Homo sapiens: one gene and its partners. The protein of the gene in region 3 interacts with the protein of the main gene of each other region in a biochemical or structural test. Each region holds a gene or a part of one and is shown on either strand. Other genes may lie near its edges.

What was found.
Region 1: the proteins of LNX1 (region 3) and DAPK1 form a complex in vitro, tested with the Homo sapiens proteins (one study listed by BioGRID).
Region 2: of the proteins of LNX1 (region 3) and NUMB, one has a biochemical effect on the other in vitro, tested with the Homo sapiens proteins (2 studies listed by BioGRID, with this or other methods).

What each region holds. Positions count from the first base shown.
Region 1 is NC_000009.12:87,696,661-87,704,390, reverse strand, and holds part of DAPK1 (death-associated protein kinase 1), read right to left. Parts: intron 7,385-7,730; coding exon 7,187-7,384; intron 5,736-7,186; coding exon 5,597-5,735; intron 4,275-5,596; coding exon 4,154-4,274; intron 1,363-4,153; coding exon 1,174-1,362; intron 1-1,173. UniProt on the Homo sapiens protein: Calcium/calmodulin-dependent serine/threonine kinase involved in multiple cellular signaling pathways that trigger cell survival, apoptosis, and autophagy.
Region 2 is NC_000014.9:73,455,023-73,463,569, forward strand, and holds the start of NUMB (protein numb homolog), read right to left. Parts: upstream 3,525-8,547; 5' UTR 3,471-3,524; intron 2,712-3,470; exon of another isoform or gene 2,607-2,711; intron 1-2,606. UniProt on the Homo sapiens protein: Regulates clathrin-mediated receptor endocytosis. Plays a role in the process of neurogenesis.
Region 3 is NC_000004.12:53,476,207-53,483,936, forward strand, and holds part of LNX1 (E3 ubiquitin-protein ligase LNX), read right to left. Parts: intron 5,649-7,730; coding exon 5,514-5,648; intron 2,537-5,513; coding exon 2,359-2,536; intron 776-2,358; coding exon 547-775; intron 1-546.

The sequences.
Region 1 (7,730 bases), on a different chromosome or scaffold from region 3:
CTCAAGGGCAAGCAGGGATGTAATGACAAATAAAGGAGACTATATGATATGATCTAGAAAGTTGCTGGTCTACTACTAGAAAGCAAGGGACTCCTGTGCCAAAGGAGTTTAGAATTAGAATTGACACATTTTTTACATCCAGCAGTATCTTGTCATCTAAGATGTGGTCCTTCACCTGTGTTCTTCCTTGGATTCAATCACTTTAAAGTATTCCTGGATGAGTTGGCAGATTCTCTGGCCATTTAACTGGGAGTTTAAAGGCTGATGAAATTACTGCCCGGCGACTCCAGTTTTCAAGGTCACTGGCTTGTGGATTCAGGTTTAGTTTCAAGAAATTTGTATGACTCATACAAACTGGCTATAGGGCCAGACCTGGCACCTGAGATTGGGGAGGTAAGCATCTGGCTTTTAATAATCTCAGAGCTGCTTTTAGTTGCAATATTCAGAACCGCTCTTCTTGGCCCACACTAGTTCATGTAGGCTCCCAATTTCACATGGTGGAGAAACACGAAGGCACTGCCCCCGTTCCTGGGACAGGCATATGATGCCATTAGAACAGGGTTTCCAAACCGCGCCCTGGTGCTCAATGTCACAGAACCAGAGCAAAGCCTCCCATTCTCAATCATTTCTGCTGGGCATTGCTTGCTAGAGTTTTTTAATGTGCATCTTTAATTATGATTACTCTGTGTATCTGTGCACCAGAGTTCTCTGTCTTTGTATCTCCAGACATTGCCTCCACAAGGACACCTCACTGCCTTTTCTCAACTGTTTTCCCACCCAGGAGATCTGTGTGGAGCTGATGACTCCACGCTGATACAAAGAAGCCATCCTGAAGGCTGCCAGGAGTAGCAGATTAAGTTCCTGGTGCCCAGGGGGAGTGAAGAGAGACCCAGTCACCCAGGGCAGTGGGCACTGCACTCCCAAACTAACAGACTCTGGAAATAAAAGCAAAACACGACAAGACAAAATGACAGCTCCTAAGGTGAGCCGAGAACTGCAGTTCAGAGCGTCACTTGAGGCTGTGTTTGTCACACGTGTGGAAATGTTGTAGGTTAGCTGGACCATTTCCACACTGCTTCCCCAGGCTCACACCACTTCCAAGAGCTGGAATTTGGGACAGGCTGAGTCCCTGGCACCTCTCACGGCCCCCTGCCTGGGCTCCCAGGGGCTCACCTCGCCTGTGCTGTGGAGCTGCTGAGCAATGCGCCTGAGGTCCTCCTCGCTGGCCAGGGGGTTCAGCTGGTCCTGCACGTCGTACACAAACTGCTGCAGCGACATCAGCTGGTTGGGTCCATTGAGCTTCCTCCAGGAAGGCAGCGTGGAGATGATTTTCTCACACAGGTGAGTCATGGGAGGACAGACCTAGAGGGGGCAGGGCCAGACAGGTTAACTCACCTGCAGCTGTGGGTGCCCTGAGCAGAGCCACAGTGGAAAGGACACCTTTCATTCAGGCGCCTTGCAGGTGATTTGATGAACGAGTGGGTTTTTTTGTTGTTGTTGACGTTTTTTTTTCTTTTTTTAGACTGGGTCTCGCTATTGCCCAGGCTGGTCTCAAACCCTTGGGCTCAAGTAATCCTCTTGTCTCAGTCTCCTGAGTAGCTCCGACTACAAGTACACACCACTGTGTCTGGCTAGTTTGTGTTTTTTGGGTTGAGTACTGGGGCAGTTGTCTTTTAGACTTGCTTTTAAGCCTCATCTATTGCTCAAATATAAAGTTTTATAAAGGCTCTTTAGTTCATGTTAAATAGATTTTGAGTCTTCTAGGAACGTTTTTGGAATTGTGGACTCAGTCACTCAATCAACTAATGTTCACCAACTCCTAATGTTTCACTCCCTCACTTTTTCCTCCCTCCCTCCTTTCTTCCCTCGCTCTCTCTCTCGTGACTGTTTCACTCAGGCAATGATCACTTTATGAACAGAGGAAAAGAGAATGAGTATCATCATCAATATTAGAGTGAGTGTTTACCAGTAAATTAGGCATTCGTGGGGACTGTTGTTGAAATATTGTTTCCAATTAGACCCATTCTTGGTATGTAGGCTGAAGTGGATTTTTAACCTTTTAACTTGGTTAATTAGATCAGCATATGTTACAGACTCACGTAATCCACATACCTCTGAATTAGAAACCACATAAGCCACAGGCTACACCGTGCCATTAATTCCGCACTCCCCTCTCAAATTCTTTTGTGTCAGCTAAATTCCACTCTGCATTCAAAAACAAAATTCTCAGGGGTGAGTGCAGTTGATGTGGTGGGCTCCACCTGCCTGAGCTCAGGAGTTTAGGGGTTGGGCGGGGGGTGTCTGAGAAGCAGCAGATCATGCCAGAGCCCAGCTCAAAAATCTCCAGGGACACTCCCTCCTGCCTCAGGAATGCAGCCTCAATCCAGACCTGGTGGGGAAGCACAGGGGCCCTCAGAGACCACTGTTAGTTCCCAGATCACCGCCCCTGGTTTCTGTGACAGATTCCTCCCAGGCCTCACCGGACTACCCCCTATCTTCTGATGATGCCACAGTGGGACCCCAACGAGGATATCTGGTGTGAAGGGCAGGGTTTTCTGGAGACAGGAAAGGGTTTCCCGAGAATTCTGGAAGCACATCTAGAACCAGAATCTGGTGCGGGAAGCACAGCATTTTCTTATTAGCAAAGCAGTTAAAAAAAAAAAAAAAAAATACACCCAGAGGCAGCTTCAAAGGTAAGAGAGGGAGACAGGCATCTGCCCGCATTTGTCCTCAGGCCTCGGCAGCAGGAAGACTCCAGAGTGAATGCCACCACTTCTCCACTGGGACGCTCGCCCTTTTCTTACCAATTCCGGAGAGCTTTTTGAACATTACGGTGTGACCATTTATCTGTCCAAAGCATTGAGAATGCTTTTTCCCAGCCTATTTCACCTTTCAACTTTGTTTACTTAATTTGTTTGCTAGAAAAAAATTTTAAAAATTTTTACATTTTCAAACAGGTATATTTTCTTTTAAAATTTCTAGGGTTTTAGATCTTGGTTTAACAGGTTCCCTCAGTCCCTAGTTATTTTGAAAATACACTCTCCACAATTTCTATTCAAGGTATTTATTGTTTCATGTTTTTACTTAAAAGCTTTAATCCATTTATTTTTGGACTTTGTAGGGTGTAGGAATCCAACTTTATTTCCTTCCAGACAAATAGCCAGTTGTGCCAGGTTCATTTATTAAATAATCTTTACCCCATTAAATTCAAATGACATATTTATTTTCCATTATATTTCTAAAGATATTATGATTTACTTCTATACCCTCTAAGCTTTTCCTCCTATTTAACTGTATTGATTATCAGGGGCTTTATAATAGGTTTAATGAATTTTTCCATGGAAATTTTAAGATAAAAATCCCAATCCCCTCAACCCATTCAGATGCTAACTGAAATTGTATTACATTTATATAACTAGGGAAAAATAAAATAGTCATATCTTGCAACCCAAGAATACAGTCTCATTCCCTTTGTTCATTTATTCTTTTCTGTCTTTCAAAAAAGTTTGTGACTGTTTTTCTACTTTTCTGAATTTTCTAAATATTCCACAATAAGTCACTTTTGAATTTTTTGGTTTTTTCCCAAAATTGGCCAGGCATGGTGGCTCACACCTGTAATCTCAGCACTTTGGGAGGCTGAGGTGGGAGGAGCACCTGAGCCTAGGAGTTCGAGACCAGCCTGGGCAACATAGTAAGACCCTGTCTCTACCAAAAAATCAAAAAAATTAGCCAGACATGGTGGTGCGTGCCTATAGTCCTAGCTACTTGGGAGGCTGAGATGGACAGATTGCTTGAGCCCTGGAGTTCAAGGTTACGGTGAGCTATGATCACACCACTGTACTCCAGCCTGGATGACAGTGTGAGATCCTGTCTCTGAAAAAATAAAATAAATAAATAAAATATTGTTAAAGAAACCAATAAATCGGTAAGAATTTCATAAAATTGAAGTGGTCCACCTTGCCCATAATAACCCTTCAGCTCCCATCATCTCCTTGTTTCTCTATTCTTCCTTTCTTTTCCCAGGGCACTAGGATAAAGACATGTCCAGGCAGACACCTCTTACTGGGTCCTACTATGAAGCAGTTCCCTGAAACCAGAGGCAAACCAGGAAGGAAGTACAAAGGGGTCCAGGCTCTTTCCATGGTGTACTTACCGAAACAATCTGGCTTCGTATTTCTTGCAGATGATTTCGAAGTACCTTCATGTCCTTTGACCCAGAAGCCCCAGCATCCAGAACAAACAGCTTATTTGAAATGTGAAGATCATTTCCAAACCTAAGGGAAGAGCAGCAGCCTCCTCAGCAGTGAGTCAATGTCCCCAGGCCTTTTAATGGAGGGGCCAGGCTCCTACTGGCTCAAGAGGCTGGTAGGAGGGAAGGAAAGTTCTGGTGTCCTTGCAAAGGCCCCTCCCCATCCCTGCTGTTGGTGGGCTCTGCCTCATCACAGTGGGTGCAGAGACTTGGGGAAACTGGCATATAGTCTGAGTCATAGGAGCGGGACCTTCAGGTTTGCATGAAGCAGCAGGAGCACAGCATGGAAAGATGTCAGCTTCTCCCGAGGCAGGAAAGGTGAGGCCTAATGCTCGCACCTTACAAGTGAGGACAAGAGATACTGTGGAAAGTGGAGGGACTAAGAATAGAGGTGTGAATGCAAAAGCTACATCACTGACCTAAAAATATTAATAGAAGCCCCATTTTTATATCTGGCAACAGATATAGTGTCTCAAGACAATAGATAAATGTCTCAAGTTGATAATGCAAGATCAGAGATACTAGCATATTATAGAAAGCTGCAGGTTCAAACTGTTTTGATAGACTCTGAGTAAAAACATATATTTTACATCATAATCCTGTACATACCCATACTCATCAGTGAAACAAACGTTTTACAAAATAATACTTGACATCTGATCTATCCTATCCTGTCCTGTCCTTTCCTGTCCTATCCTATCCCATTCCATTCCATCCCATTTTAAAAAGAATTGGCCACGACTTCCTAAATGAATTTTAAGACTCACTAGTAGGTTGCAACTTATATTGTAAGACATACTGATTAGTGTTTCTGAACACTGAATACTGAGTACTGAAATCTAAACAGCTAAAAGAAGTCACCTCCGGGCAGTGTTGCTGGGAGGTAGAAAGAAGGGGGTTGCTTTCATCACGTGCTCTTCATTTGTATTTGATTTACTATGTGGATTCATTGTTTTAATAAAAATGAAAAATAAAGGTTGTGCATCCCTAATCCAGAAATCTGAAATGTTCCAAAATCCAAAAACCTTTTGGGCAAAGACAAGACATGCAAAGGAAATGGTTATTAGAGCATTTCAGATTTAGAATTTTTGAACTAGGATGTTCAACTGCTATGTATATGTACATATATTAAAATCCAAACAAATAAGAAATCAGAAACACTTCTAAAGCCGATCATTTCCAATAAGGGATACAAGACCTGTACAAGAAAAGAGTTGACCAAGAAAGAAAGACCTTTAAAACCTTTCTCTGGTTCATGAGACTTCCTTTGTACTTTTCACACCTCTGCTTCAGTTCTCAGGGAGAGGAGGCTACCCGTGAGCTGGAGACTAAGTGGCTGCCCCTCACCTGTTCCTAATCTCTTTCAGCAACGATGTGTCTTTGTCATATCCAAACTCGCCTCCAGCCGGTCGAGGAACATTCATGATGTCAGCGTGGGTGGCCACCAGGACAACTTGGAGTGGGTTCTTCAGCTTGCCACCGAAGGCTGGGGGCAGAGAGGGAACTGCTTCAGGGGGTGGGTCCTCCTACCTGGCTGCCTCTCCTGCCCAGGTGAGGGCGGTGTGTTGGCCTCATGCCCAGGCCGACTCTCCAGGTACAAGTGCAACATGCCACAGAGATGAAGGCCCCACGCCTGCTGTGCACTGTGACCCTAGAAGGCCCCAGCATGGCCAACGACAGGATAAGCCTATCTCCTAGGCCACAAGGAAAATTGCTCAAAGTGGACCAGAATGACTAAAGGCAGTTTCTCAAGTCTCCAAATAGCCCCTACTTACAAGGAGAGGGAAAATTTAACCTGTGACAAAAGGGATGCCGCTTACAAGACCAAAGAGAGACGCCTGAGTGCAGCAACACCACAGAGATGGGTCAGAGGTAAATGACCTGCAAGTCACACAAAGAGCCTCCCACTTCGGGGAGTGTTTAAAACAAAGGAAAAAAAGGACAAAGAAAGAGGCAAAACTGGCAGTACCCAGAGGGGCATTAAGCCCAACTCCTTGTATTATATGCTTTTCCGGAAAGAAAAAAAATTGACTGCTGAGTATTGCATTTCACCAGGGAAGGCTGCTTCTCTTGTTGTGGGCAAAGACCAAAGGAAGTTTATTTCATGTTATCCTCTCCTCTAGGAATAAAGTTAAGATAACACATTCAGTCAACATGCTCCCTTTCTTCATTTCTCTCTCTTTTTTTTTGAGACAGGGTCTCACTGTGTCACCCAGGCTAAGTGCAGTGGCACGATCTTGGCTCACTGCAGCCACAGCCTCCCAGGTTCAAGCAATCCTCCTGCCTCAGCCCCTGAAGTAGCTGGGACTACAGGCACATGCCACCACACCTGGCTAAGTTTTTGTATGTTTTGTAGAGATGAGGTTTTGCCATGTGGGCCAGGCTGGTCTTGAACTCCTGAGCTCAAGGCATCTGCCCACCTTGGCTTCCCACAGTGCTAGGATTACAGCCGTGAACCACTGCACCCGGCCTCTTTCTTTGTTTCTTAGTGGAATTACAGGATGAAGAACTGCTCATTCTGCTGACTAATTCTGTACCCTTTAGGTAAAGGTGCAGTAGCTATCCAAGCAGGGATTCCATTTTGCACCCAACATACAATGACCATGGCTCTCAAGTGTAGAAAAAAAGTGAGAAATGCCTCTCAAAGGATTGTTCAAAGTGGGCCTTTGAGGCAGGAATATGCAATCATGAAACAAAAACAGCCTGCAGAATACCACGAACACTTGAGCCTCATGAAGCTTCTCAGAGTGGAAGTCTCCCAGCAGGAAGGAGAAAGGAAGTTGGCTCAGCTGTTAGCCACAAACGGTGGGATCTGCTCATGGCCTGGTGCAAGGCCAGCAGCAGCAGTGGCAGGAGCAGGGCAGAAGCCTGGAAGGAGGAGGCGATTCCTGGCCAACCACAGGTAGGACATCACTGGCCTGCAGGGACTTAGCTCACCTATGGGTTCTTCAACTGGGACAAGGGACTTCAGGAAACTGAGCCAGAAAATCACTTGGTTCAGCTGGATCTCATAGGGCTCTTCTAGACTAAAGACAACAACATGGATTGACGTGGGATCATTTGCAGCAAAATAGTCATAACAGCAGAAATACACAGGATTTCCAGAGAACTCCCACACGCTGAAATCGCCAACTCCTACAGAAAAAGAAAAATGATAACAATCGTGAAACACCACTAACCAAATTTCAATCATAAATTCTCTTAGCGTTCCACGGATTCGAAGTAGGCATAGTGATACTTATGGCATTCTTCTGTATGTGTATACATCTTGTTATGACTTGGGTATGGTTTGTTCCCCACTAAAACTCATATTGAAATCACTCAGTGAGGTGATGTGGGAGGTGAGGCCTGGTGGGAGGTGTTTGGGTCCTAAGTGCAAATCCCTCCCAAATGGCTTGGTGCTGGTGGGAAGGAGTGAGTGAGTGAGTGAGTGTGTTCTTGCTCTTGTGAGAGTGGATTAGTTCTCATGGGAATGGATTAG
Region 2 (8,547 bases), on a different chromosome or scaffold from region 3:
AATTTATTTTGTGAAAAGTCTGCATCTGCTTTAGAACTCAGATATGCAATGGTTATATGCCTTGCAGTCTTCCAAATGAAAATAAAAATTTTAAGGAAATATAATCTGAAATAAAACTAAAAATTATTTTTGAGAGAGAAAAAAATAAACCAAAAATCCTGATGCAAAGCTATACCAACAGTTTCTTCACAATTTCATAAAACATTAATGAAGAGGTTACATAATCCCCTGGATTAAAGATTTTAAAGAAAGCTGCAAGGATCTCTTTCAGTTTTCAATACTGCTTCCTGTTCTTAACAGCCATAAAAACAGATCTAAATCAACTCCTAAATATAAACCATCTAGCTTTCAATGGAAGAAAAATCAAACCACGTACAGATAAAACATACATATTCTTTTTAAAAACACGCTGTAAATTACATTTAGGTTCCTCAAACAAGTTAAGTTTACAACATGTACCACATCCAGTTTATTCTCAAGGGAGAAAACCATTAAACAAAAGCTCCCTCTTAATAAATGATTTACTTTGTAGTTAAGCCTCTATCCCAGGTGCATTTTGCTGTCACATATTACCACTATTTCTTTTCTCTACAAAGACCTAGAAACTGTATATCTAGTTCCTTTAAAAATATCTGTATATGTTTTATATTAGTGTAAGGATAAGAAATACTTAATATTTTTACTCTCTAAAAAGGAAATATCTTTTCATTTTTCTCTTTTGCAGTGTTTCTTACTTTGTTTTTGCTTATTTTCTATACATGAAATTTTCTCAAGTCAGTCCATTTCAGTGTTGTTTACTGTCAATATGTCTGTGTATACTCAGGCTTTTACAAACAATGCTTTACGGTACAGTGATAAAAAAGAAAGGGTGAACAAGAGGGCACAAGTGAAACAAAAGCGGACAACATCTGAGAAACACCATTCAATTTCTCTGCCTCAGATTCCCTTAAGTTCTCATGCCAAAGATTCTCAATATCCAAAAAAGTTCCAGAGTCAGAGGCATAACACAATATGTGACAAGACAAACACAGGAGGAACCAAATCAGAAACTGAAGAAATTTAATGGAATATAATACTCCCAAAAAAACCTTTTTTTTTTTTTTTAAGATGGAGTTTCACTCTTGTTGCCCAGACTGGAATGCAATGGCATGATCTCGGCTCACTGCAACCTCCACCTCCGGGGTTCAAGCAATTCTCCAGCCTCAGCCTTCCAAGTAGCTGGGATTACAGGCACGCGCCACCACGCCCAGCTAATTTTGTATTTTTTTTAAAGATGGGGGTCTCACCATGTTGGTCAGGCTGATCTTGAACTCCTGACCTCAAGTGATCCGCCCGCCTTGGCCTCCCAAAGTGCTGGGATTATAGGCGTGAGCCACCGCACCCAGCTTTCAGACTTTTTTAACTGTAAGAAATATATTTTATCCTTTGGCCAGGAACTCAAAAAAAGAAATACACTTTACATTGTGACCTAGTACATACATGTAGGAGAAAAGTTTCCCAAAACAATACTTTTCCTTACCAAATGCAATGTCAGTTTATTCTGTTCTACATTTTATTTTCAATGCAGGTAAAAACTCACAACATTGATTTTATAAATTACTAATAAATCACAATCCACAGTTTGAAAAACACAGGCTAAAAATGAGTATCCTTTATAATAGGATCTTTTAGGCAATTTGCCTCTACCTGTCTCTTTAGCAGGTATTTTAAAGTTGCTACCATTATTACCGGTTTCATTAAAGTAAGTGGTTCTTAAAGTGTGGTCCTCTGACCAACGTGATCATCATTTGAGATAAATATAAATTATTGGGCCCCACCCCAGACCTACTGAAACCCCCAGGTGGGGCCAAGCAATCTACATTTTACCAAGCCCTCCAGGTGATTTTGATGCAAGCTAACATCTGCGAGCCAGGTCTTTACCTTCTATTTAAGAAGTCAGGTCTTTATCGTCTATTGAACAATCCAGTACACACGACTATGTGCCAGTCACTATCCTAAAAGCTCTACAAATACCAACTCACATGAAAAAAAAAACACCACCACCACCTTATAAAGTAGGAACTATTACTATTAGTATTCTGATGAGGAAACTGCACAGAAACTTAGCTAAGTGGTGGAACTAGAACTCAAAACTTCTTTTCACTTTAGCCGAGTATGCCTACCCTCTTTCTGATAAGTATTTACTTCTACTCCTTTAGTTCAGCTACTCCTCCCCTTTTCCCTCCCAAATTCCCCACCCTGTCAATGAACCTATTTCCTAATATTACTGCCATCATCCTAAAACAAATTTCTTTTCTAAAACAAGTCACTTAACCTTGCTTTTAGGAGCTTTGCTTTGGTCCTAGATGTCATCTTGATATTAATTACGAAACTGAAGTTTCTTCTATTTGTGAAGACCTGTGAACCTACATGGCTCCACTGTTAATTTCTCATATATCTACTGTCCTAGCCAGTTCCACGAAACCATTACTCTCTCCTCGGGCAACTTTCTTTCTCTACCTTATCCCCTCCTATAGGGATTCTCTCCCACCTCCGCCCATCTCCGTCCCATTTTGCATGACTCCTCTCCGACCGAGGGAACTTCCACTCCCCTGCTGGCTCCTCACCCCGGTCTCAAACGCGAGCCACTCCTCGAGGACTTCTTTCCTGGTCCCTTAGGGATCCTCAGAGCCGGAGCGGCCAGGCCAGTTGGGTCTCCCATCCCAGCTCAGCTATGGGGGCGCAGGGAGCTCCGGTTCTTCCCCCAGGCGGTGCAAGATCTCTACTCGTCCGACCCTCCGAAGACCTGCTGCTCCTCATCTCTCCAGGAGCCCCCTCCCTTGGACAGCCGCTTTTCTCAGGAGGGTCCCCAACCCCCTCCGAGCGTTTCCTCAGACGCCCCTACTTGGAGCAAGTCTGCTCCCTGTCACCCGGGACCCTGGCCACCCTCGGCCTTCCTACCTCCCTCGGACCGGGGCCACTCCCAGTTCCCCTGCCCCCCACCCCGCTCTCTCCTCACCGGCCGCTGCCGGGCTTCCCGGATTCCTTTTCTCCCTGGCACCCAAGCCGTCCTGGGTATTCCCAAGACACCCCGCCCTTGAAGCAGGTCGTTACAGGTCACCCCCTCTCTGGGACCCTGGCCGCTTCCGTTTCCTCAGATACCTACTCCTCACACAGTGGCCGCCGGTCAGCGCGCTAGACCGGAGCAGCTGGACGTCCCAAGGGACCTCCTGGCCTGACCCGCGCGGGTCCGGCCGTAGCCTACCTTCCTCGGGAGAACTCCGCAGCCAGAAGCCCAGCCCCTCTCCCCCTAGCCCAGTCAGCGCGAACTCGCCGCCGCCCCCGCCGCCTCCGCCCTGGCCCCGGCCCCGGCCCGGGCCCCGACCCGAAGTCCAGGCCCCCTTCCTCCGGCCTCCGCCTCCGGAGTGCTGAGCTGGAGATTCCGCCCCGCGACGGCCCCCAGATCTCTGACCCGCGTTACCGGCACTCACCTGCCGCTGCCCCCGACCAACTCAAGCGCCACTGCCTCTACCTCGGCCGCCAGTGGCCACCAAGCGCCACCACCTCCCCCATGACAACAGGCCCACCCTCTTTCATACTTCTAACCTATCCATTGGATAGTGGGGCGGCAGCTCTCCTCTCTGATTGGTTTAGTATACCCGCCCGTCATCGCTCTTTACCGCCCCTTTTCCTAAACCCGGTATTCGCCCCCGCCCGGACCTGGAGCGTCCTAGCCCAAGCTTTAGTTGTAATTGGTTGAGGGTTGGGCAATTCGAAGTTATGATAGGCTGCTAAAAGTGTCTGTTAAGCTAACTGGCAAGAGACGTGACGGTTAAGGTTGATTCACGCTTGTGCACAGTTTGGTTGCGCAGTAGAAAGCAAAGGAGGGGCAGACGCTCACATTCGTGGTTACCCGGGAAGGGTTAAGTCTTTGTTGTAGAGTTTTCTCTGTAAACTTTTCCACTTCTCCAGCTCACTTCCTGCAAGGAGAAGCTTATCTCTGCTAGCTTTATTCATAGGGGTAGTACTTACAAAACACCAACATTAGAGGTTGTGTTTAAGAAGTGTTTCCAAGCCCTGGGGAGAAAGGTATCAGAGAGATAAAAATGTCCCCTTCTTTTCTTTGGTCTCAATGCATCCAATTTCATTGAAGTTCTTTCCAGGAGCCTCAATGCTAAAGGGCAAAGCGCAAACTTTCATTTAGCAGAAATCAGTCAACTTCGGTTGCAATTATAAATGTCGTCAATAAACTGAAGTGGCGTATTGAGAGTTCTCCAGCTTCCAGATCCACTCCTGGCTGACCCCTGCCAATTGACCAGACAGCCATTAGCAACTTTTTTTTTTTTTTTTTTTTTCTGTGAGACGGAGTTTCTCTCTTGTTGCCCAGGCTGGAGTGCAATGGTGCTATCTCGGCTCATCGCAACCTACGCCTCCCAGGTTCAAGCGATTCTTCTGCCTTAGCCTCCCGAGTAGCTGGGATTATAGGCATGAGACGGGGTTTCTCCATGTTGGTCAGGCTAGTCTCGAACTCCCAACCTCAGGTGATCCGCCCGCCTCGGCCTCCCAAAGTGCTGGTATTACAGGCGTAAGCCACCGCGCCCGGCCAGCAACTTTCTAATAAGCGGGCCACATTATACCCTTTATGATGCTCTGGAAATGAGAATTCTGCTTTCCCCCACCTCTCACTGCCACTTTGTTTTTCTGTTCAGCAGTTCTTAAATAGCCCTACTAGCTGTGTGTCAGATACTTTAAAAGCTTCTCTCTCTCTCTCTCTTTTTTTTTTCTAAACCTCTTCCTAGCAGTCTAAATTAGGGCCATTGAATGAATTGCCGGGTTGTGTGTGTGTGTGTTTTTTTTTTTTCCTCACTTGGCACAATGCACAAGAATAAATGATTGCATTTTTTATTCACTTGGGTACAAATCACAGTAGGCATTTTTGAGAAATCTAATGTTGCTATAAAAACTCTTGTGCTCCTAGAAATATATTCATCATTAGCTTTTTGTTTTTCCTTTTTTTTCACCCACTTTTCCTGCTCCTAAATAACAAAATGCTGGTCTGATTACTCTTTCAGTTTCTAAATCAGATTTAAATGTACTTTCTCACAACCCCACCTATGATACATATACCCATGGGCCATGAAACAACACCCAGGGATAGTTTAAGACACTGTCAGGCCGTGCGGTGGCTCATGCCTGTTATCCCAGCACTCTGGGAGGCCGAGCCGGGCAGATCACCTGAGGTCAGGAGTTTGAGACCAGCCTGACTAACATGGTGAAACCCCTGTCTCTGCAGATGGTGCCACTGCACTCCAGCCTGGGCAACAGAGTGAGACTCTGTCTTAAAAAAAAAAAAAAAAAAAGACACTGTCAAGGAGGCATTCACCTCAAGGATGTGGACTTTGGAAATGTGCTTTGTCTCTTTCTTCTTTCTGCTAACCCTTTGTCTCATATTTCTTCTATTTACTAACCTCCTTGTTCTTTGCAGAGCAAGCTACAAAGAGTCTAAAACTGTATGGTTTATTATTCAGAAAAATATTGTCTTTTTTCTAGCCTATATTTTTAGTCAAGTTTAAATAAAGTACATACTTCTATCACCAGACTAAGCAGAAATTATTCCTCCAGTAACTATACATAACAATAAAGTGCCTTTTCCTAGTTATTTTCCGGAACTTTCCTCCCCCTCCTCTCTTCCTCACCTTCCAATTTAGAAATAACCTCCCATTCAATTCAATGACTCACAAAAAGCCTGTGAAAGGAAAGTGGAAAAGCCAAAATAACTTAGAGATGTCTGAATCATTCAGCTGAAGGAAAGATCAGACATTGACCATGATAAGATAGACGCCAAGACATAAGGCAAGCCTGAGCTAACATCCCATAACATGTGAAGTAATGCAAATGTGAAGATGCCCCAAGAAAAAGCAAATACCAATATGTCCTTTTACACAGCCTTTTAATATATCACCAGCAGCTTGCTTCTCTCTAGTCTTGGCAGTGTGCCATGCTACCAATTTTAGAGCAAGTTAGAAGACAATTAATGTCCTGACAGATAGGAAACAATAACGTCATAGGAGGACATGACCATTATTATGGTACTTTGGGTAATAATGGCTCTTGCACAGCCATAGTGACTAGGTGCCATAGAAAACATAGAATTAGGCCAGCCTTGCTAAGAGGACTTGCCATCTAAGTTGAAGAATGCAGCGAAATTACTATCACAAAACTGGGTGGAAAATTGTCACAAAAGTCAGCCGCTATTTCATACACTAAAAAAAAAAAAAAAAAGAAAGCATGTATAAATGCTTTTGCTCATATACACACATCTATCATTCCTATTCTTTGTGAATATCAGTTAAGAAAGGACATATAAAATAAATATGTTACAACCCAGTAAGTAGTGGGAAAACCTTAAGGAAGGTTTCAAGGAACATGCCTTGAAATAACAGAAGGCTATTGTGTTATCAAAGACTGTGCAGTACCGGAGGGGTTATTGCTTGTATCCCTACATTTTGCTTTCACGTGCACAAGGTAACCCTATCATGTAATTACTCCATCCAGCTTTTTTCTTTTCTTTCCTGTGTTTTTTGCTTCTCTACCATTCTCAGGGCTCCCTCTCAGAAAACAAGAACACTGGAGTCTGGGAGTCTGCAGCTTCCTGTTGCATGGCTGGCTGTGGAGGTCCTGCAGATGGTATCTGTTCAGAGCCACTTGGGCACGACCAAGATGGCAGGTACATTCGGGGCAAAAATAGCATTTATAATCCCAATTAAGCAGAAAATAGAGGACTCAGAGTGATGTCCAATATCTGAGGAGTGATATAGTGTGCCTTGGGCTTTCCTGTACACTAATGCTGTTTCTCCTGCTCTTTCATAATGTCACTTTTCAAGGGAAAAGAATCCAAGTCTCTTTCCATTTCTATTTTAGCCCACAGGGGCAATCTCACTAGGGAAAGGATCCATTTTTTGCTTTTGGATTTTCTTCCTCTGGATTCTACACACGATTCCAATTCCAACTAGATTAGAGAAATAAACAACCGGTGGAGAAGAAAATCGCTCAGATAGCAGACAAGGGCCAGAACTGCCTGCCACTAGCAGTTGGAGGCAAGCCAAAATATTTGATAAGAGGTAGCTTCCTGAGTTAGGGATCCCTGAGGGTGGAGGCTGACAAAGATGAAGGGATTAGAGAGAAGGGGAGGGAAAAGGAGGGAAGAGGAGGAGATGAGGGGGCAGGAGAGAAAAGGGTAAGAAAAGCTAGAAAAACAGTCAAAAAACCCAATCAGAGTGCTGAGCCAGCTTACAGTCCTGCCTTGCCTACCCCCTATCCCCACCCATGTGGACTTTACACTAGGTTGCATAATTACACCAGCAAAGTGCAGCCTCTGCCACTGGTTAAAAGGGAAAGCGTGCCAGGCTCCAGCCTATGGGACCGTTGTTCTGCTGCCACCTGGAAATCCTCCCAGAGCTCAAAGCCTGCTGCTCTGGGCAAAGCTGACAAGGAAGGACAGATTCAGCAGCCAACCAAGGAGCATACCTTCATTTGATTTCCTTAAGGCAAAAGCACTGGCTAAACAAAGGGAGACTATCTGGGAGAAGGTGTTTTCACCCTTTCAAGCTGGGGTGCTTTCACCACCGGGAAGTGCCACGCTGCTTTCCACGCTGGAACAAGGTACTGTGGTTTCAAAGTTCAAGGCTCTGTTTCAGGGATGGGAAGGAAAAAAAAATCAGTGAAAGAAGGTGTTCTGGTCTCTCAGGCAGAACCATTTGTTATTTGATTCCAGAGCTCATGTAATTTTTAAATACCACACTATGCATTTTCATTACTAAATGCATTCATTTTCATCCTCAAGAAAAGTGTATGCCCCCTTCCGCCTGCTTTACATAATATGGCTTGAGCGCTTGTAAAAATGGATGGGCTGTAGCTCTGAGTTCTGCCATTGTGCTATTGACTGGAGCTCCTGGTTACTATCACCAGATCTATGGGTGGATCAGCCATTCTTCTGCAGCAGGGAGTGGACCGACTCAAAGCACTTAGCACCATTTAAACTTTTGTCCATCTCTGTTTTTATGCACACAAAGAGTTTCCTGGAAACATGGCTATCCTCCAAGGATTTCAGAGAGTAGAATTCTTCCAGAACTGCAGTGTCCCAATCACTTGGAACCTCATGAGAAAGCAGACTTAAACTCAGACCCTAGAACCTCGAACTTAGTATGTTCCAAAAGCTTTGGCTCTGCCATTTACCAACTGTGTAATTTGGGGAACATTGATTCATCACCCTAAAGCTTCATTTTCTTCATCTATAAAATGAGATACATATTAGCTATCTTGTCTTGCATAACAAATTACCCCAAAACTCAGTAGCTTAAAAGAACGTTTATCGTCTCAGTTTCTGTGGGTCAACTCTCTGGCATTGGGTCTCTTATAAGACCACAGTCATCTCAAGCTCAGTTGGGACAGATCTGCTTCCTGCCTCACTCACCTCGTTATTGTTGGCAGGACTCACTTCCTAAGGCCTTGGTTCCCCAGGAGCTGTTGGCCAGAAGCCTCCCTCGGTGCCCTGCCTCATGGGCCTCT
Region 3 (7,730 bases):
AGAATCATTTGAACCCAGGAGGCCAAGGTTGCAGTGAGCCGAGATTGCACCACTGCACTCTAGCCTGGGTGACAGAGCAAGACTCTATATAAAAATAAAATAAAATAAAGCCACAGAAGGCAGTCAGCCTCCCTGCAAGATCCCAGGGCTGCCACTAGCAGATTAGGCGAAGGTGAACCTTCTCCTAGGCAGTGCAACTCAGCTCCAAGGGGTGTAAACACAGGCTGGGTCTCTGCCCCCTCTGCCTGTCTGTGGAGCTCTCTGCTGCATGAACAACCTACACAGCTGTACATGGCAGTCCTGTGAGCTCCTCAACCTGAACGCCAAACAGTATTTCCACATCCAGGCTTTTGTCTTTGCCCTAGAATGTCCGCATGCATTTTCAGTTACAAATGGGAAGAGAGAATTATTTCACAGTCCCACAACCAAGACTGGGTCTAATTAAGATGCTAGTGCCATGAATCAGCCCTAGAGAGTGAAAGAGTGGTTTAAGAAATGTAATCGTTTTCTCCCACGCCCCTACAGGGATGTTGTGTTTGGACTTACCGTGGTAATTCCAGCCACATGACCCAGGATGGGGACCAGTCACTGGGTGGGGCCATGTTGTGGTTGGAGTCCAGGGCTGCTGGGCTGCTGCAGTCTTCCTGGGGCTCATACTCTTTGACTTCCAAAGCTTTGAGTACTATCGAGGATGATGTTCTTTTCAATAATGCCACTGCCTCACTCCGGCTGACCTCTGTCAGTTCGACCCCATCCACATTCAACAAAATGTCACCTGATGGCCAGAGAAGCAGAAGCTATCTTTAGTGAGAGCACAAACAGGGACTTCTGCTTAAAGTGCAAGGGGATAGGGGCTGACTGGGATTGCAGGGATGCAGAGAGGGCAAAGGTTTTCTTTGTTGACGGGAGGCTGGGTGCTCACATAGCAAATGGTAAACAGTGTGTGCATTCCAAGGTGCTGTTAAGACTTGTTTGGGGTTTTCTAAAGCACAGCTATCGGTGTTTTACACAAGAATACCGCTGAAGGAAGGAAGGAAGGGAGTGAGAGAGGAAAATTAGTCTTGTTCACTATTTAATCAAAGAAAACCTACTTTTTCACTCTTTTGTTTCTTGTTTTTAGCATAAAGTAGGAGGATTTGGCAAAAGCTCCAGCATTTGCACGGAGCCAGGCATGTAGTAGGCCTCCAGTAAATATGGATTGAATGAAAAGAAACTACCCATGAGAGTGTCTGGCAGAGGAGTCTTGGAGCTGCACTCTTAAAGAAGCAGAAAGAAAAACATTTTCATTGCTAAGGTGAAAATAGCTACTATTGGTTAAGCGCCTACTATGTGCAGGATCATTTCCATATAGATCATATAATCCTCTAGCTTATGTTCTGTTAACAAGTCATTTGTTAACAAGCCACTTTGTTTGGCCTCATCATTTTCCACCCAGATGTTTTGCAGAAAAGAGAAATTAAAATATACATCTCCCCTATTTCCATTTTCTATTTTTTTATCTTCATCCTGTTTTTTTCTGTCCCCTTTTGCTTAACTTTCTTATACAGAATAACCACAGCAAGAGCAAAAAGACAGGAGGAGAAAAAAGAGAAAGGCCTTGAGTCCTTTCTGACCCGAAAGAAGCATCTTTCAGACAGCTGACTAAATCTCTTAAGATACCATCCCCCTGTGGCTCCTCAGGCTCAGCAGCTGTACTTGGGAAACTTCACAGTTTATCTCTTGAACCTGGACTTTTAAATGGCATAATTCCTCACCCATCTGAGCTACCTACCCTCTTGAATGAATTGACAATATTATTAAGGATACATATTTGTAGAGGCAAATTTGATATCATCTTCCTTTATTTACTCAAAGTAGCCCAGAATACATGAGCTTAAAGTAGTGAAATAATTTTCACTCTGGGAAAGTATCCAGCATGATACTTTCACTTAATGAGTATTCATTGAATCAAATCTATCAAATGACTTTTTCTATCTAACCCATATAATTGAATAATTCATGAATTATTTCATGAATTCCACCACCGGATCAACCCACTAAAGAACCACTTAGAATGAATGGAACTACATTATGCCATTTAATAGAGGTAACTTGCTCATAACTGTAGCAGTTCTCTATTAATTCCTGGAACAGTTTGGAGATTCTAGCTTTACTTGCAGGCAAGTTGGCCTGCAACTAAGAAAAGTGGAACCTGGTCTAGTATCTATACTCAAACCAATCATGGTCAATGGGTAACAAAAGTCCTGGCCGATCACTCCCACATTCTCTCATTAATTTTGAAAATAGTCACCTAACAAGCTACTAATTTCTCTTGATTCTCTGCCACCCCAGTGCCTTTAAAATCCCTTTACTTTTTACCTGTTTTTATTCTTCCATCTCTGCTTATGACTCCTCCGGGCTCAACACTGATGACATAGATAGGCAAATCCCATTCTCTATGTGATGCTCCCCCTGCGACGGTCATGCCGAGAGATTCACCGGGGTCTTTTTGGATATTTACCACCTTCTCATGACAAGTAATTGTAGGATGGAGGGGCTGAAGGCACAGATGGAAAAACATGGCACATGAATTCACAACTCTGGTAGTTTTTGAATGTAGAAAATGCAAAGTGGGTTTCCATTTTCTAAATGCAAAAATTACCAAAGCTGCATAAATTATGCAAAGTGCATAAATACAATGGTGGTTCTTGAAATCACAGAGAAAGACACCTGGAAAGAACCCTCACCTTATCCACTCCCAACCATAATAGGGTTACATTGTCCCAAATTCTACAGGTTAACTCAGATAAAGTTTACACTTCAAAAGGAAAGAGTAAAAATGGAGGAAGGAACCGATTACAGACCATTAGAAAAATATATTTCTAAAATATTTTCATAGAGAAAAAGTATTGCTTTGTTGCTCAGGCTGGTCTGGAACTCCTGGCTCCAAGTGCCTTGGCCTCCCAAAGTGCTGGGATTACAAGCATGAGCCACTGCTCCTGGCCATGGAGGAATCTTAAGCACACAGAGTGAACTGCACCCAAAATTTCTCAAGTGAGTCATTTATTCCTGATAGTAGTGAGTCAGCATTTCAAAAACACTCTGTCATTTATAAATATCAGAAACTTTTCTATGTTAAAAAAAAGTAACCATATTTTATAGAGTCTTCTTTCACACCTGCTCAGTGCTTACCAGGCAGCCTTGCCTGCGGTGAGCAAGAGATGTTTAGTTGTGCACTGAGGGGCTGGATGCAATGGCTGAAATACCACAAATATGGCATGTGTGCATGTGTCCTGTCTCATGAACCAGTGTCCATGACCATTTCCTTTCTTAACCAGAAAAGCGACCAATGTCAGCAATGGAAAAAGAAAATCATCTGTGAAAGCTTCACACCCAGGGTTACCTGACTTTGGCTGGAGAGGAGGAGAGTTACGTATGAAAGAGATGACTTTTCTATCTATCTTTTTTCGCCATTCTCCTCACCCTACTTTGGACACCTTACAATGTTCCTTGATGTTTAAAAACATAATTTATGGTAAAATAGTTTAAGCTAATTAAAAACACAATGGGTACCTGAATATTTCTCAAACTATAAGATGTATTTCCATTTTAGAATATTTGCTTTGGATATTTAGAATAAAACATTTTAGACAAGTAAAAAAGCATAAAGAATAACAGAATGACCTACCCATGTACCTCAAAACCCTACATCAGAAATAAACATTCCATGTGCACTTAGTCGCTCTATGACTCTTTCTGCTCATAGGCCTTGCCTCCCCACAGAGGTAAACCATGCAAAATTTGATGCCTAGCATTCCTTAACTTTTTTAATTGGCTAAAAGTTTTCTGTCCCACAAATCCTGCTTTGTCTTCTTTGGTATTTCTTTGAATTGTTTAAGCTCTTATTTTTAAAAAGCTACCTGGTTTCCTAAACCAAACAAGATTTTAGTAAGAATATAAAAACTGAAATAATCAAAGAGCCATATATGTCTCAGTTTTTTTAAATATGTTACTTTTTTGTGAGGATATTTCAGAAGTCAGATAGAATATAAGTTAAAACGGAAATAATTACAATTCCGACTAAGTCAGTTTGCACGTTTCCAGGAATTAAGACATATGACAGAGGGTTGCAGCAGAAATGTGACCAGATCCTCCCAGCTCTTTCATGATGAGGAGGTGGAAGGAATTCTAAAACCACAGTGCAGATGGAGGCTACCTTCTCCATAATTTGATGACTTAGAATATGACGTATTCTAGTTAATTCAACTAAAATTAGTTAATTGGATAAAAACTTCAATTAATTAATTAAGCTAATAAACTAGTTTTTCATTAATAAAGATGATCAGTTAAATTTAAACATTAAGCATTTACTAGCAAAAAGACATCACGGAGTCCTTATCCATAAAATGTTTTAGCAGGATATATCTGGTCTGTCTAGACTCCTTATTGTAGAGAAACAGGTAATTTATGGATTTATGAGGCTTGGCTGGCTGGAGAACCTGGAGGGGTGTATAACCTTGTAGGCTATGTAATTAACATAGTATAAAGCAGAGATGTTCCAAAATAAAAAATTTGAATATTGTTTCTCTATATATTACTCAAAAACTCAATTTGTAAGCTATTCCAACCAACATATAGATTGACGTAGAAAGAAAAGGGCATTCCCTACTTTCTGTTGCAAGAAGAATGAGCTACCTTTAAGAATTTTTTTTAGTTACAAGTGATGCCATGAAACCAGAACTCAGGAGAGATGACTGAAAGAAGCTCATCAGCATCACAACAGGATGCCAAGCCAAAGCTATAGGACTCTTAATTTGGACTAAACAAGGTTTGTGTTGCTTAAACACGCATCCAAATGAAGAGGTTAAGGCATTGCCTCTAATAGAAGCCACAGAGAGAAGTACAAATTGGGCTGAGTCACTTCATTTAAAGTGAGGCTGCAAACTGGTGGCCTGAAGAATGAATTCCACCCACAGATCCACAGTGTTTTAGAGTTTTCTGGATTTGAATGCCATATAACATGTGCTCTCTGGTTTGCCCCAATCCCCACCACTCCCTAATGTTACATGAGCTTCAAGTGTTTAAATTATCTTCCTGGGCCCTTCGGCAAACACAAACAAAAACTAAAAGTAGCGGGGAAATCACTCATTTCTAGGCAGACTGAAAAATTCAAAAGCCAGAAACCAGGCAAACTGCTTGCTTCATTTCAAAGTGAATAAAATAAGTCCTCAAACAAGATGACTCTTGGTAAAAACATGCCATTTATTTGGCTTAGGCTAGAAATCAGGTCCCTGTATGAGGTCTGCATGATCAGGTTTCAAAACTTTCCTGCACCTTCTTCTCTCCTGCTTGGATGGGAGACACCTGTTATCTCTCCAAGTCTTAAATATGGGACTTTGGGCTTTTAGTTTTACAAGTCAAAGTGTTTCTTTAAGTAAAAAAGTCCAGAGATGACACTTAGACATGTTAAAACAAGCAGCCTTCCCAAGAAATAGCCCCTTGCAGGAGCAGGCGACCTGCCCTAGAGGCCTCACCTTGGGAGTGTTGCTCCTCTCCCCTGGCCCTGGGGACCAGCTGCCATTGCTGTTCCAGCCGGCTTCCTGAAAGATGTCAGGGCTCCGCTGCCGAACCTGGCGGGACACGACGAGGTGAACACGTCTTTCACTGGCCTGGGCAAGAAGACACAGGCATTAGCCACTGTCAGTTTCCATCCACTGCATTCAGCACCAGGAGCTTACAAAAACATCACTTTGATTATACCATTTTTTTATGGCAAAACATGATTTCTAGTTTGTTGGGTTTTTTTGTTACTATCCATCTTGTAATTTGCCAAGAGCATGAGAGCTCTTTCCTTTATCCTTAAACCAGGTAGTAAATGTTGCTCCAAGGGAAAACTAGGGAAGGTTTGGTTCCTTCCAATCTTTGAAAAGGCATCATCAGATATTGCTAATTCATTTTTAATTAATGGTTGTACCACACACAAGCCATGCCCTAAGTTCTTCCCAGATAGAATTAGGTGCACTGTGTAAAGTAGCAGCCCAAAGCAAAGATCTAAGATCAATGGTACACAGTAAAGAAAAAGAGATGGAGTTAATGGCAGTAACTTGCCACTGCAGGAAGAGAAATCCTGAGCCTGACACTTGCAAATATTTGGGCATAGGAAAGGTTTAGCACTTTAGAAATATGGGGATGACTTCATACATTAATATGTACAACCTAATCAAAATCCTTTACCTTCAATTCACAATCACAAAGACATGGAATCAACTTAAGTGCCCATCAACTGATAGGTAGATAAAGAAAATGTGGTATGTATATACCATGGAATACTACTCAGCCACAAAAAAGAATGAAAAAATGTCTTTTGCAGCAACTTGGATGGAACTGGAGGCCATTATTTTAAGTGAAGTAACAGAGGAATGGAAAATCAAATACTGCATGTTCTCACTTGTAAGTGGGAGCTTAGCTCTGGAGATGCAGAGGCAGAGTAATATAATGGACTTTGGAGACTCAGAAAAGGGGAGGGTGAGTGGGGTGAGGGATGAAAAACTGCCTATTTGGTACAGTGTACACTATTCAGGTGACAGGTGCACTAAAATCTCAGACTTCACCACCATACAATGCATCCATGTAACCAAAAACCACGTGTATTCCTAAAGCTATTGAAATACAAAATGTTTAAAAAACTGCAAAAGAGTAATTTGCCTTGATTTCTTTATTTTTTATGGAACTACCAGTTACTCTGCTAATTCTCTCTGCTATGTACATTGATATTTGGACAGGCATTCAGAATAGCAAATATAGTACTTATTGGAAAGGTCCACTCCACATCATCGATATGGTTTGACTGTGTCCCCAGTCAAACTTCACCTTGAATTGTAGCTCCCATAATTCCCATATGTCATCGGAGGGACCTGGCAGGAGGTAACTGATTCATGGGGGTGGGTCTTTCCCATGCTGTTCTCGAGATAGTAAGTCTCACGAGATCTGATGATTTTATAAATGGGAGTTCCCCTGCACAGGCTCTCTTGTCTGCCACCATGTAAGACATCCCTTTGCTCTTCCTTCATCTTCCACCATGACTGAGAGGCCTCCCCAGCCATGTAAAACTGTGAGTTCATTAAACCTTTATAAATGACCCATTCTCGGGTATGTCTTTAATAGCAGCATGAGAGCAGACAAATACAATGATACATTTACAAATTGTCTTTCTGCCACAGATTAGTTTCACATGTGTCAGGTAGTATGGGCCATTATTCCAGAATTGCTGACCATTGAGATTTCAGAGCTGCAGGTCATTCAGACTAAATCTTAGACCTATGAAACTCACATAAATAGAGCTCTCTGGTGGCCTAGGCTGAAGTAGCCAGCTGACCTCATTTATCACTTTAGTAAAAGTTGAAAATGAATGAGATATGGAAGATTTGATTAGAAAGATTCCCAAGACAGACCTGGTTTAGGGACAAGGGAGATGGAAGAGAGAGGAGTAAGGTTTGGTGGTTCCTCTCTTCATCCCATCCCTTGCCCACTCACCACCACAACAGAGAAGGGGCAGTGACCTGCCAGCTTTCTTCCTATACAGGGATGGTTATTGGGCTAGGGGAGAAAGGTCATGAAATGAGGGCATTGAAATTCCATGCTCTTTTGCATTGACTCAGACAATGGTGGTGGAGATATTTTCTTCCTGCCTGCTATGGTCTGAACATGTTTCCCCAAAATTCAGATGTTAAAATCCTAACCCACAACACGGC